Linked DNA regions of Homo sapiens. The protein of the gene in region 1 purifies or fractionates together with the protein of each later gene. This does not show direct contact. Each region holds a gene or a part of one and is shown on either strand. Other genes may lie near its edges.

Region 1 (3,678 bases):
TTCTCAGCTGGGACAGCAGAGCCTCACTGTGTATGTGTGCAGCCAGCAGATACCTGTGCACAGGCACAGACCCACCAACTCGTGGGGACACTTCAACACCGCACAAAGCCATTTTGCCACTAGACCCATGCCCCCAAATTAGCAGAACTGCAGCTGGGTACCCACCTCCCATGATACACTCATTCTTAGCCATTGTGCTCCAACACAGGCGCATGGGATGGCCACACTCACTGACAGGCATGGAGATGTGCACTACACACCAAGGCACAAGCATGATATGGACACATGCATGTGAACTGGAGGGTGGCCCACCCAGACATCTCCAGAAACCACTGGTCCATACAGGTATTTGTGTGTCAGACATATCCAAACACATGCACTAACAAACACAGAGGTGACAGTCACAAGAGAACAGCTCAGCCACCCTTCCCACAGAGCAGTCTCAGCACAGTCACAACTACCAACCTTGCCCAGGGCAGGGACCCAGGAGGCCCAGGCCACAACCAACCAGACACAGTGCCAATGGAACAGGACATCATTTAATTGCCTCTAGGGTCCTCCTGGGAGAGGGACTGCGGGGCCTTTGGCAGAGCTCTGGCTGATGGAACCAACAGAGGTGCCCATCAGCCAGTGCCAGGCAGGATGGCGGCCCCAATGCTTGGCTGGGGGCAGCCAGCATTTGGGGCTGTTGCTTAAGACAATTTCTGAGACTAATGGGTAAGGAATGTTGCCTTTAGATGGAGGAGAGGGGACTACATTTAGAGAGGAGGGAGGAGAAGTGGCCTGCATTGGGGGAGGGACTCTAAGGTTAGGTTAGGAATGACAGGGAGTTGGTCAAAAGGTCCTTCATGGCCAGGTGAAGGCTGGGGGGAGTGTGGTGATGGAGTCCAGCAGGGGAACTCTGGACAGGCTTGACTCAAGCCAGCTTCAGGAACTCCTGCAGCGTGTTTTGTTCCACAGCCTCCACGAAGAGCTCATAGTCCTGGAGAAGGGGAGGCGAGGGGTGGTCACCTGAATGCAGGGGGCCCAAGTGCTTTGTGGCAGATATGACCCTGGCTAGAGTCCTCTTCCAACACTCCCCCCACCCCCCCGTCCCCCAGCCCATACCCCACAGTACTGGTCCCCGTTGACAATCTGGGGTGGGGTGGCCTTGGGGTTGCCTGCCAAGGCTCGCATCTCATCCCTCAGGGCGTTGTCCTGGGAGATGTCCACTAGCTGGTATTGGATGCGCTTCCCATCCAGGATTCGGGTCACCTCGCTCTGCTGGGACTTGATCTGGGGACAGAGGGTGGGTAGGGGTTAGTGGATAGGCTGGAGGATTTATGGGGGAAATGCTGGGCAGGGTGAGAGAGGCTGTGACCAGGAGCTTTTGTCCCCCCATTCCCCTCCACACTAGGGGAGGGTTCTGGCCTCTAGGAGTTGGGAGGATGAGTCAGGCTTGAGGTGGTGCAGGATGAAGAGAGGGATTATCAGCCACGGGGGAGGGGGTCAGAGTGAAGGGAAGTGGGATCAGGCTCAGGGTGGGGAGGGGAGGGGAGGGCAGGCTGCGGTCGTGGTCAGGGTCAGCCCGGTAGTGGGAGTGCAGAGAATGGGTGTGGGGTTGATGGGGGATGGGCACGGGAAGTTCATGCCGCGGCTGCAAAGGACCCAGGATGCCCGATGAAGACATTCAGGATGGGGCCTCGGGACCGGGTCCGGGAGACCGTGCCCAGCACCTCGCCGACGCACTCCCCCCACCCCGCCCCCGTCCTGGGGGTGGGTCCCGGGCGCTAGGGTCCAAAGCACCGGGATACAGCCCTGCGCTTTCCCCCAGCGCCAGTCCGGGCGCGCACTTACTTCGCGGGAGCCGGTGACCGACGTGCTGTAGACGCGCAGGCCGCTCATGCTGGGGGTAGACAGACGGGCCGGCGGGCAGAGGGCGGCGGTAGCGGCAGCTGCACTGCCGGGAGACGACGCCGCCGCCGTGCTCGGGAGCGGTTTCCTTCCTGCTCCGCCCGCCAAGTCATCGCGCTCGGGACCAATGGGCGGCGCGGGCAGGCGGGGTGGGACCTGCGCGACACCGCCCCGCACGCCAGAGGCCCCTTCCCTTCCCCCTCGGTTACCAGGCGCGCAACGGACCCGTCCCACGCAGGGCGCCCCTTCTGCGGCTGCCCTGATCGTCCTTTTCGGCCCTTCCCTGATCTGGAGCTCAGTGTGAGACTGGGGAGGGGCCTGGGTGGCAGGACAGGCCCGGGAGAGGGTCTGGCAGAAGCCTCCCTCTCCAGCCGCACACAGGTTTGGTGCATCCAACTCCCCAGCCACGAGAGCCGCTCTCTCCAGGAGGAGGTGCTCTAATAGCACAGGGAAGCTTGGGGCTTTGGAAGGTTTGAGCTGCTTTCAGACCCAAAGTTCTCTAAGAACCTTGCTCCAAGGGATCCCTCGCTCCACCACCCAACACGCACCACTAACCCTAGGGGATAGGAAGCATAGGACAGCAGGAAGAGCCCATGCTTAGAGATTTTCCCCCAAGTTCCTCTCCACTCAGGTGGGAAGGTTTAGACAAGGAAGGGTGATAGCAGGACGCAGAGGCCACACCCTCAAGGAACCAGATGGAGACCAAGGCTGACAGCTGGAAAGCGTGGCGGTAGAGGATGATGTCAGGACTCGAGAGCCTAGGCTCAAGCTGACCCTTAAGATCCACCCCAGGTCTTGGGGTGGTCCAAGCTCAACCCCAGCTCCATGCTGCAGATGGCATTCCCAAACTGCTACTACTCCCAGCAAGAATTCAGCGGTTGAGGGGGCAGACTCCAGCAACGAGCCCAACTTTGGAGACCTAGCTGTCTGGCACTCAACATCATGCTTCTCAGATGTCCCCCTGGTCCAGGGCTCAGGCAGGTTAACAGCCCAGAAAGACAACCCTTGCTCTGGTAAAGCCACTTCCTCACAGCAACCCAGAGGCTGCCAACTTCCTGAGAGGACTGCTGAAACTTTCCAGTGACAAACTTCTGTTATGACTCAGGGAAGGTTTGCCCAAGAGAAAGTGAGTGGGAAGAGATCTGGTTCTATAGAACGACAGAGGAGCAGAGGTGGCAGAGATAGATAGGGACATGAGGCTGGCTGGACCTGCCAAAGGTTCCTCCACGCTGCTGCCTGGGGGACCTGGCTGAACACCCAGGTGTTTGGCTCTAACAAGCCAAAGTGAGGGGTAGAATAGCGTGGTGGTGGTGATGGAAGGGTATGGAAAACTGAGGAGTCTGTTAAGATACTTTATTTTATAATCAAAATACGCAATACAAACAAATGGACATAACAAAGATTCATATAAATAACTGGTTATAAACTTTATGAGGAAAAATACCCGTCAGCATGGTGGCTGGGCTCCCAATGCACAGGGTGGAGACCAACCAGGCGGCTCTGCCTTTAAGCAGCAGGAGCCCAGAGGCTGAAGGGCTGGCTGGGTGGGGCTGCTCTGAATGGAAGGGATAAGTCACTCCATAAATAAAACACAAACTTGTAAAAACACTTAAGAAAGAGCCTCATTCAGGCCCAGGCATGAGGTCCAAGATGCTGCCAACAGCCCAAAGCTTAGCAAAAATCTTGTAGTGGCTGACTGGCCCACACGTGGCCCCTGCCTGGCCTGGCTCCAGATCTAGAGGAGGCACGGCTGGCCCAACAACCAGATACTAACAAGTGTGAGAT
Region 2 (3,748 bases), on another chromosome or scaffold:
GTGGGAAATGGAGGTCTCATCCTCATCATTCCATCTCTATTTCAGAGCCCCAGCTCCTTTCTTTCTTTCTCTTCACCTCCCCTCTCCTCCTCCAACCTCTGCCATCCCCTCTGTTCAGCAAATTCCATACACATTTAGACATCAAGATTCACCCGGCAGTCAACCACCCAGCATTGCAGCCCAAGTCTTGGCTCTACTGTTCTTTAGCTGGTGACCTCAAACCACTTAGTTCCCATCTCTGTGCCTCAGTGTCCTCATCTGTCAATTGGGAATAATAATGGTGCCCACTGCACGGAGTTGTTGAGAGGTTCAAAGAAGGTGACAGATGCAGAGACAGCCTGACACTGTCGGCACACAGACCATTAGGCAAGTGTTAGCTGCTGTTACAGGTACCATTGATTGTGGTGGTGGGAGAATTCCCATCTTCCACCCCACAGTTGGTCTCTCCCTGCCTCAAACCCCTGGCTTTGTCCTAAACCCCATTTCTAAGTTTTATAGTGCTTTGCTCTTCTTCTTGTCATGTTTACATCAAAAATCACCCATCAGAGAGATAAAAGCAGGGAGGAGGCATTTTATTTCTGAAGTTGTTAATTTTATCCTAGACTTCCAAGAAAAGAATCATCCATCTGTCAAAAAGAGACAGAGAAGATAAAAGATCTTTAAAAGTAATTATTTAAGTGCCAACCAAGAGGAAATGAAGATGCATTTGGCTCGGTTATTGAGTTGAATTAGAGAATGGTGTTGTACCACCGCTAATCTGCTTCATAGATGAGAAAAAAGGAGAAGATGATTTTAGAAAAACAAACGTGCTGTCAGTTGGCCCCAGTAAAACACATTCTGTATAAACAAGTTTAGAGAAGTGACTTTGGATTTGCAAAATTGTAGCTCTTCTTCTGCCGGGGCCGCCTCCGGTCTTAGAGCCACAGATCTATACACACGGATGTTTCCCAGTTCCTACTACTTTTTGCATTTCTTTCCCTGGTGCTCTGATTAACTGCAGAGGTAGTTTGTACAACTGAGCCATGAAATGCCACCCAACGGCCAGCCCTTTCCCCACCTTGTCCCCTTCCCTTCCATGGCTTGCATTCACCAGATGACCACCTGCCCACTCACATTCTGAAAGGTATCACCGCGGGAATCATGCAAAGACACGCATCTTCGTAAGAGAATAAAACATTTGGCTTTCTCTTCTGAGCTCTAAAACCCAAAGCACTTTTCAAAGTCACCATTCAATCAGAAAGCAAACCTTTCTCCTCCTCAGGCTAATTGTAGAAGTTGCAAACTTAACCAATTTCTGCACTTACCATTCAAACCAAGAGATTAATCCTGTCAGTTCTCCAAGCAAATAATTACAGGATTAATTTGTTCCTCAGCACTGCTAAGTCCCTCACATTTCCTGAGACTAATCCTTCAGCCGAGGTCCCTTCTCACTCCTAAGTTTCCCTCTCCAGGTCGAAGCATCACTCACCTCACTCATGTTGGCTCTAACTCAACAGCTCAGTCCCGCCGCTCAGCACAGAGAACACTGCTCAGGGGTCGCTGCTCCACCGGTTCTGGCTTTTCTCTTAAAAAGAGCTGCCCGGTGGCATCATGCCTCCCTGGAGCCAATGAGATGCATTCACCTGTCTGCAAGCCTGGCCGACATCTGAGAGCACCAGGGGCCACCTAGTGGTGCAAAAGAGAACGGCACGTTAGGTCGCTGCTCCAAATTCCGCCAGGATGGAAGGAAATGCTCGATTTCTTTAAAAAGTAATACACTCCAGCCTGGGCAGCAGAACGAGACCCTGTCTCTTTTAAAAAAAAAAAAAAAGTAAAAAGTAAAAGCTAAAGTTTCAAAGATCATCACAGGGATGCCATTGTGCGTTTTTCAATGAGTGCAAGATTTACATGCATGTAAAATACCTTTCAAATGTCAATGGGAAGGATTGTTTTTCTAAGGGAAGAGGAGCTCTGAAAATACCTGCGTGCCCGCTCACGCACTTTCAGGTTTTCCCAGGAGCTGTGTTTCCCTTGCCCTTTATAACACAAAACTCAGCCCAAGGACTTTAATATCTCTGCTGTCTCTCCCCTATCCCATATCTGTCGCCCTGCTTGTACCCTGAGCTGGAAGGATAAGAGTAGATGGACTGGGACATGGGAATGGGTCCCCACGACCTCAACAAAGGAGGCGAGCGGCTCCAGCAGCCTTGCTGATGTGCCCTCCTCACAACCACAGTGGGGCCAGGAAGGAGCCTGGGCATTGGCCCTGGCCTGGTTGAAGGTCTCCTTGCCTTAGTCCTGTTCAGCTTTTCCGGGAAGAGGTTCCATCCTTTGTTCAGTCCCAACATCGTGAGGCTCTGAAGAGTCTTCAAGGCATCAGAGTGGGCCCTCAACTGTCCCAAAAAAGCGTTGTGCAGACTGAAGGCACATTCACATCTGTTACTCTGCCAGTCCCGGTACAGGACTGAGAGGGTCTGGCGAGAAGATTGAAGCGTCTTGCCACCCGTCCCCAGCACCCCTCATCTCCCTGTGCAGAGCAGGCCACCAGACTCCAGCCCATCAACCCTCTCTCCTCAGCTCAGCAGCCCCACGCCCTCTGACCTGGACTGCCCTCCTTACATGCCCAGGTCACCGATGCGACCACATCCTCAGGTCCACCTTGGACAGCAAGCAGAAGGCCATGCGCCCCCAAATGGGCACCGGCGAGCACAGGCTGCCCTCAGAGGCCTTGGCCAGGAGCACCAGCTGGTCAGCACCCTCGCCCACAGCGTGGGAACACCAGCCAGCAAGACAGAGTCTCATACATGAGTTATTATAAAATAACCTATATTTCACAGAGCGACAGAAATGAACATTATATATATTATATAAAATATGTGTGTTATATTCGTTTCTTTTATATGTATATAAATTATTTATTTACATATCCTGACCACACAAATCATTTGCAAACTAATGAAGACAGCATCCTCCTTCTCTCACTCCCCTCCTCCTCCTTGCCCCCAATGCCACGCTTGGGAAGGCCCACGTGGGATGCCTTTAGGGTTGCCCAGGTGGTTAGTAGTGGGAGAGAAGGAGGAGGAGGGCAGGGTGAGGAACTGGAGCCATAGTGTCATCTGCGATGTAGGACAGATTGACAGATTGGAAGAAGGGTGCTTGCTTATCTATACTAGGAGACACCTGTGATTTCTCAGGGGCAAAAACCACACCCTCCCCAGGGGCCTCCTGCCCTGTTGGGGGCTGGACCCCCACAGCCTGGAGGTGTAGAAGGGGTCTCCCAGTGTGAGCCTCCATGGGGTCCCTGCTGTGGTCCTCCAGGCTGTGCAGAGGGCATGTGGAGAATCAGCCTGTGCTCTGCTGGCTGGCTCTGGAGCAGACCTGCATTTTCTAACAACACAAAGACACATCAAGGGCTGCAGCAGCCTGAGGTTGGCAGCACAGCAATTAGTGCTGAGGCTCCAAGTAGAGGGGCAGGATTGGAGGTGCAGGGCTGGGCTGAGGCTTTGCTGGGTAGACTCAGCAATTCTTTGGGACCAACCAAGGGACTATGAAGACTATTGGGGAGAATGGGTTATGGTCTGAGCTGATTGCCTTCCTCCAGAATTCATACATTCAAGTCCTAACCCTCAATATCTCAAAATGTGACCTTATTTGGAGAAAAGGTCTTTAAAGAGGTGATTAAGTTAAAACAAGGTCACTAGGGTGGGCCCGAATCCAATAGACTGGTGTCCTTATAAGAAGAATAGATTAGGGCACAGGCACTCGCAGA

What was found.
Region 2: the proteins of SH3BGRL3 (region 1) and PCP4 purify together in Homo sapiens (co-immunoprecipitation; 2 studies listed by BioGRID and IntAct, with this or other methods). This does not show direct contact.

Annotation. Positions count from the first base shown.
Region 1 is NC_000001.11:26,278,362-26,282,039, reverse strand, and holds SH3BGRL3 (SH3 domain-binding glutamic acid-rich-like protein 3), read right to left. Parts: upstream 1,955-3,678; 5' UTR 1,885-1,954; coding exon 1,837-1,884; intron 1,276-1,836; coding exon 1,108-1,275; intron 983-1,107; coding exon 917-982; 3' UTR 518-916; downstream 1-517. UniProt on the Homo sapiens protein: Could act as a modulator of glutaredoxin biological activity. May play a role in cytoskeleton organization.
Region 2 is NC_000021.9:39,865,231-39,868,978, reverse strand, and holds the start of PCP4 (calmodulin regulator protein PCP4), read right to left. Parts: upstream 1,542-3,748; 5' UTR 1,478-1,541; coding exon 1,469-1,477; intron 1-1,468. UniProt on the Homo sapiens protein: Functions as a modulator of calcium-binding by calmodulin. Thereby, regulates calmodulin activity and the different processes it controls.